Linked DNA regions of Homo sapiens: region 2 is reported to be linked to region 1. The links are microRNA targets in miRTarBase. Many come from high-throughput screens and were not tested one by one. Region 1 holds a microRNA gene; the other region holds the end of a gene's coding sequence.
What was found. Region 1 holds the annotated microRNA hsa-miR-6812-5p (AUGGGGUGAGAUGGGGAGGAGCAGC, at 1,402-1,426, opposite strand). A microRNA usually pairs through its seed, bases 2 to 8, with sites in the 3' UTR of a target mRNA and lowers its output. Matches are read on the target gene's strand: a 7mer-m8 pairs with bases 2 to 8, a 7mer-A1 pairs with bases 2 to 7 and ends in A, and an 8mer does both.

Region 2: miRTarBase lists SLC66A2 as a target of hsa-miR-6812-5p. The part of its 3' UTR that is shown has no 7-base or 8-base seed match.

The regions. Positions count from the first base shown.
Region 1 is chr20:45,423,793-45,426,940 of GRCh38, reverse strand. It overlaps MIR6812 (microRNA 6812), which reads right to left and starts at 1,431; the gene lies at 1,368-1,431. It overlaps PIGT (phosphatidylinositol glycan anchor biosynthesis class T), which reads right to left. Exons shown (of 12, transcript NM_015937.6): 10 at 2,560-2,725; 11 at 2,362-2,445; 12 at 700-1,367. The coding sequence ends at 1,115.
Region 2 is chr18:79,901,419-79,904,418 of GRCh38, reverse strand. It overlaps SLC66A2 (solute carrier family 66 member 2), which reads left to right. Exons shown (of 6, transcript NM_025078.5): 6 at 236-1,999. The coding sequence ends at 443. Among named protein-coding and RNA genes, the nearest start is that of SLC66A2, 49 kb to the left of the region's middle. RefSeq lists an enhancer at 1-252.

The DNA of each region.
Region 1 (3,148 bases):
GTAGGAGGTGGGGGGAACTGCAAATAACACACAGTTGATGCCAAGTGTGCCAGAGGAAAAGACAGAAGATGAGGGCAGTGGGAGGCAACCGCCTAAAGGCTTGTTTTACAGAAATCCAGGGTTATGTAACCAGCAAGGGAGGTGGGCGGGGCGGGCTTCAATCCAATGAGCCTGGCTTCAAAGCCTGGGGGTGGTCTGAGGACAGAGCACAGCAGGAGCTCCTGAGAAGCCTGCTAAAAAGTCAAAGTCTGGGCCACACCCAGACCAACTGAATTAGTAGGATCTGGACCCCAGGAACATACATTATTTTCACAAGTGCCCCCAGTGACTCTGATGCACACTACAGTTAGAGACCCACCACCCAGAGCCCTCCCACCTCTCCACTCTACCCTTGCTGATGTGGACTGACTCTCAATGCCCCCAAGAAGTAGGATGATTCATTTCCATGGCCATGGATTATGCTTTCAGAAACACTCCCAAACAACCCGGGGAGTTCTGGGAATCACAATCAGATGGGGATGGGGAGGACAGGGGGAGCAGATCAGGAGAAGAAATTTCCGGCCAGGTGGGAGGAGGTAGGGTTTTTTGTTTTTTGTGGAGGGGGTTGCAGGCATAGGGTAGGAGGTCCTGTTCAGGCACTCAGCAAACAATCCCCAGTCCCCAGCTCTTCCCAGGACTCAAGGACAAGAGGCAAAGAACCACGGAAACAGCCGTTTTTATTCCACAAACAGTAAACTCCATCCACTACACAGTGACATACACTGTGTAGCACACCCCATCACCTTGGCCAGTGCTGCCAGCCGACCTTTCTGTGGTGATGGAAATCTTTTTCTGTGCTGTCCAATACAGCAGCCACCGACCACTTTTGCTTATTGAGCACCTCAATATAGAGGTGGCCACTACAGGTGAGGAAATGAATTTCTAAGTTAATTCAAATTCAAATGCCACATTTGGCTCGTGGCTCCTGTACTGGACAACACAGCTGTAGGCCCTGACCTGGTCCAGGGCACTTTGGTTCAAAAGCCAACTCTGAGGAGAGCAAGTGGCAGAAACAGCCCTTGGGCTCCCCTCCCCAGAGAGAAACGGCAGCTGCAGCTGCTGGAAAGGGCAAGAATCAGAGTGGGGGGACACCTCGGGCGCGCCGGATAAGGTTGGCCAGCCGCTTGGCCAGGCCACCTGTGCGGGGCTCCTCGATGTGGAAGGTTCGGGTGAGGAGATTGTAGAAGGAGCCATAGCACACGGCCACCACAGTGCACGTGAGGCAGATCACGTTGTAGGGCATGCTGAAGTCCGGTGTCGGCAGGTTCACCAGCAGCGGCTCCGTGTAGAGCCGCACAAAGTAGTTAGAGCCATCAGAGACTGGGAACCTGGGGTCAGGGGAAGAGCGGTGAGACAGGACTGGCTGCTCCTCCCCATCTCACCCCATCCTCATTCCGGCAGTATTGGGCAATGCAACACAGTGTTTCCAATGTTCTCTTAGGCTCAAAACCTTTCAACAGAAGGCATAGCTCAATCTCTAAACCTGATAAAGGGGAGCGGCGGGCGGGGGGCAAGGGGAGGGAGAGCATTAGGACAAATACCTAATGCATGCGGGGCTTAAAACCTAGATGATGGGTTGATGGGTACGGCAAACCACCGTGGCACATATATACCTATGTAACAAACCTGTATGTTCTGCACATGTATCCCAGAACTTAAAGTAAAATAAAAAATAAATAAGAAAGAAAGAAAGAGAAAGAAAGAAAGAAAGAAAGAAAGAAAGAAAGAAAGAAAGAAAGAAAGAAAGAAAGAAAGAAAGAGAAAGAAAGAAAGAGAGAGAAAGGAAAGAAAGAGAGACGCCTGGTGTTGAGGTGGAGGAAAGGGGCCCCGCCTTTGCTTGGTTGCTTCTTTCTTAGCCTGGTTTCAGCCTAAATGCCACCTCCTAAATGAAGCCTTCCTAGATAACCCAGTAAATCAATTCCTACCCAACCTCTAACCCCATTACTCTCTAGACCAGAATCTTCCTTCTAGACTGTAAGCAAAGGGAGGCCAGGGCCAAGTCTGTTTTGTTTAATCTTGCACACTCAGTGCTCTCAGAAGCACTTGGCATTTGATAAGTGCTTGATTAAATATTTAAGAGCATCAAGAAGTAAATGTAGGCTGTAAGTAAAAGTATTCTTCTAGAAGCACTTTAAAATCATTTTATAAAGTCTTCACAAATTCCACAGACTGCCAGGATTTTTATTAGGATTGAATTAAATCTACACATCTCTTTGGAAGATGTAACATCTACCCTGAACTCCCCTGCAGGAGCCTGGTCACCTGTGTTAAGGCCCAGCAGGCAGCTGAGGATGTGTTATCAGTGAGTGTGGTCACACTTACAGGCTGTTGAAGAGGGGACTCTCTTCCCAGTCCACTGGCTTGGCTGCTACCATGCTGGGCACAAGGGCGCTGAGGACAGATGGGCTACAGAGAAGCAGAGAGATGGCCCGTGTTCCCATCTGGCTGCCCTATCAAGGGGTAAGCAGCAGAAAGGGTAGGTCAGGGGGATGAGAGGTGGCCTGTGGGGGTGGAGCCCACCTGACATAGAAGCCATGGTTAGGATCTGGCGTGTACTCGGTCCACTTCAGCAGCGCCCGCTCAAACTGGATGGAAACCTTGGTGACTGAGTTGGCCGGCAGCTGAATCAGCATCTCCAGGAGGTGGGGTTGCAGCCGGTCCTGGGCAGGCTGGTAGTGGATGTAACCTGGAGACATGCAAGGTCACCCACATCTCTTTCCTGGGGTCAGGCTACCTGCTGCCCCTGTCCCTGCTGCTTGCCATGGAGCCTCAATCTGGGTGCCTAGAAGATGGGCTTGGGAGCATAGAAGCCAGGCAGGCAAGGGAAGAAAGCAGGGGCTAAGAAAAGGGAGAGGATGTTTCCAGGGCAGTGATCCCAGGATGCGATCAAGAGAGGTTGTTAGGAGTGCTGCAGATGGCTAATCAATCTTCACATCACTACAACTGGGGCACCAGACACCAAGTGCCTGATGTGACGCAAGAAGAAGTTCACAGAACCACCTGGGAATTTTTCTTGCCAAAAATGTGGGACATGAATCTAATCAGGTTTCTAAATCTAACCACCAACACACAAGAAATATAGGAGAGGAGGGGTGTGTTAAACACTAGC
Region 2 (3,000 bases), not on the chromosome of region 1:
TTGGCCCCCTGGGGTGTCCCTGACCCCTGGGTCACCCTGTAGACTGGGTGTCCCCTCAACCCCCTGGGTGCCCCCTGAGCCCCAGGCCTCCCCGCCGACTGCCTGGGGGTCCCCTTAGCCCCCTGGGTGCCCCTGAGCCCCAGGTCTCCCCGCTGTCTAAGCCCCAGGCCTCCCCACTGACTGAGCCCAGGTCGCCGCCCTCCCCACCGCTGACCGCCTGCTTGTGTCTCCACAGCATCAAGATGGTGCTCATGTGGACCAGTGGTGACGCCTTCAAGACGGCCTACTTCCTGCTGAAGGGTGCCCCTCTGCAGTTCTCCGTGTGCGGCCTGCTGCAGGTGCTGGTGGACCTGGCCATCCTGGGGCAGGCCTACGCCTTCGCCCGCCACCCCCAGAAGCCGGCGCCCCACGCCGTGCACCCCACTGGCACCAAGGCCCTCTGACAGTGGGGAGGACGAGGATGTGGGACCGCCAGCCGCGGGCACTGGTGGGCCCTGACCTCCCCGCGGGGAGGGTGGGTGCTGTGGCCCCTGCAGGTGTGGCAGAGATGGGGCATGGGCATTGGGGTCTCCATCAGCCTCTGTGGGGTGTCTCAGGGTGGGCAGTGGGGGTGGGGCTGGGACGCTGTTTGTGCTCAGCGGGGACAGCCAGGGTTGATCTGGCCCCGAGGGTTTTGGATGTTTTTAGGATGACATAAAAAGCAAGTGTTTTCCCCATTTCCTCTTATGAAACACCGTCTGAGCCCAAGGTACACATTGGGCGGCCTGCAGGAACCTGCTCCAGGTGGACACACGGGCCAGCAGCCGCGAACCTTGAAGCTGGGGTGACCGCAGGAGACCCTGTAAGGCCTGTGAGCGGAGCCCTCGACCCCGTGACACCCTGGCCAGACACCCTGCTTGGACTGGGGTGGCCTCTGCTACCCAGGGGTCTGGCACGGGGGAGGGCTGGGGCTTTCTCTGCCTGGTACACACGGAAAGGCGGCTGTGCGGACGCAGGGTCACCGTGCTCCGGGTTTTCTGACAGTCGGTGTTTCCTGGGCCTTTGGAGTGGCTGCGAGGCCTGAACGCCTTGTGGATCCGCTGTGTCCAGCCCGGCTGAGCATCGCCAGGGCTAGCTCATGCTGCTCTTGTCAGCCTCTGGTTCTCCTCGAGTCCTTGGGGACGTGGCAGATGCCAGCGACCATCAGACAACGTGGAGGCCCTCATGGGCAATGGCTGAGGGGGCCGGGCTGAGGCTGTGCACATGCAGTCTGCACGCCACTCTTGGGCTCTGCTGGCGGAGATCCCCTTCCTTCTGGGTGCAGACTGCACCTCCGGATGCAGTTTTGATGTCCATCTTCCAGGAGAGACGGTCTCGGGTCCAGGGAGTGGAGGGGGCTGCCCCTGCCGTGCAGGTCCTGGCCGATGGCGCCTTACCCTGCTGCCCTGGGCTTTTGGCCTGAAGCAAATTCCTGAGTGGGGGGTACTGGGGCCTGCCGCATCCTGTCCTGTCCACTGCCCACCCCCGTGTGCTGGCTCCCTCACTTCTGGCTGCAGTGGGAGCCGCCAGTCTGACCCTTGTCACCGCACGCTCTGCCCCCACCCCGTTGCAAGAGGTCACACCATGTCAGCAGCCTTGCACTGACCGCAGCCGGCCCCCAGGCCTCAGAGTTCTGGATGCTTCCGTGCGGCTCCAACAGGCATCGTCTTCCCTTCCGCAGGTGGAGGGGCCGCTTCCCGCAGGCATCTGAGCTCTGTGCCGGGGCCGTGGCCATGGGAAGATGTTCCACGCTGCCTCCTCCTCGAGTTTTCCTCGGAAACACTCTTGAATGTCTGAGTGAGGGTCCTGCTTAGCTCTTTGGCCTGTGAGATGCTTTGAAAATTTTTATTTTTTTAAGATGAAGCAAGATGTCTGTAGCGGTAATTGCCTCACATTAAACTGTCGCCGACTGCAGGCGCAGTGACTGCTGAATGTACCCTGTGTGGCGACTTGGAATCAATAAACCATTTGTGGATCCTGAGTTGGCCTTGGGCAGAGGGAAGGATCTGGCTGTGGTCCTGGCCTCTGCCCAGACACACCCTTGTAGCCTGGGCCACCTTAGAAGGCCCCTGTGTGACCTGGGTTCCTCCAGGGCCCCAAACAACAGCCCAGCCCCCTCGACCTGTCACTGGCCTGTGCCTGTGGGCCGGCAGCCCGGGGGTCCTTTTGGCTCCTCACAGACGGGTCTGGCACTGCCTCTAGCTGCCCTGGCCACATCCGCCCTTCTGCCTCCCACCACCGAAGGCTTAGAGCATGGGAAGGGTCTCCTGTAAAGGCCAAGAGAAGTGTTTCCAGATTTGCGATCTTGGAGCAGCACATACAGATGGAGCTGTGTGTGCATAGCGATTTTTTCTGTGCAGTTTACATTGAAGGCAAGATGTTTCTTTGTCCAGTAAAAAACCAGGTGTGTGGGTGCAGGGCAGGATTTGGGTTGAAGGGCCCATCTGGGTACTAGGAGAGGGCACAGGCCACGTCCAGGCAGCAGCCTGGGGGAAGACTGGAGATGATGAAGGCTAGCGTGTCTGGAACGTCTCAGATGCAAATCGCCCTCCTCAAGTGCTGGCGGGCGGTGCCAGATGAACCCGAGATCTAGCGCAGGGATGGGGTTGTGTGTCTTCAGGGTGTGGAGACAGGCGGTTCTTGGGGACCACTCTGGGTTTTAACAGGAAATGGGAGCAAGGTCTCAGCCCCGCACTGCAGGGGCCGTGGCAGGTGGGGGCAGCGGTGGAAATAGCTGCGTTTCTGAACTCTCAGGTCACTGCCACCCTGTGATGCCTTCTGATGGTTTTAAGCAACAAAGAAGCACCAAGGAAGCAGGAGGCCGAGGAGGGCTCCCAGTGAGGGCCCCTCCGTGGGAGAGAGCGGGTTGTGAGAGCCTGGGAAGTTCACATTCCCCTCACCCCATGAGGAAACTGAGACCTGCCCTGAGCCCCAGCCCTGTGCCCTTCCCAGGGGCTTGTGTGAGAGAGCGGCCCACTGGGC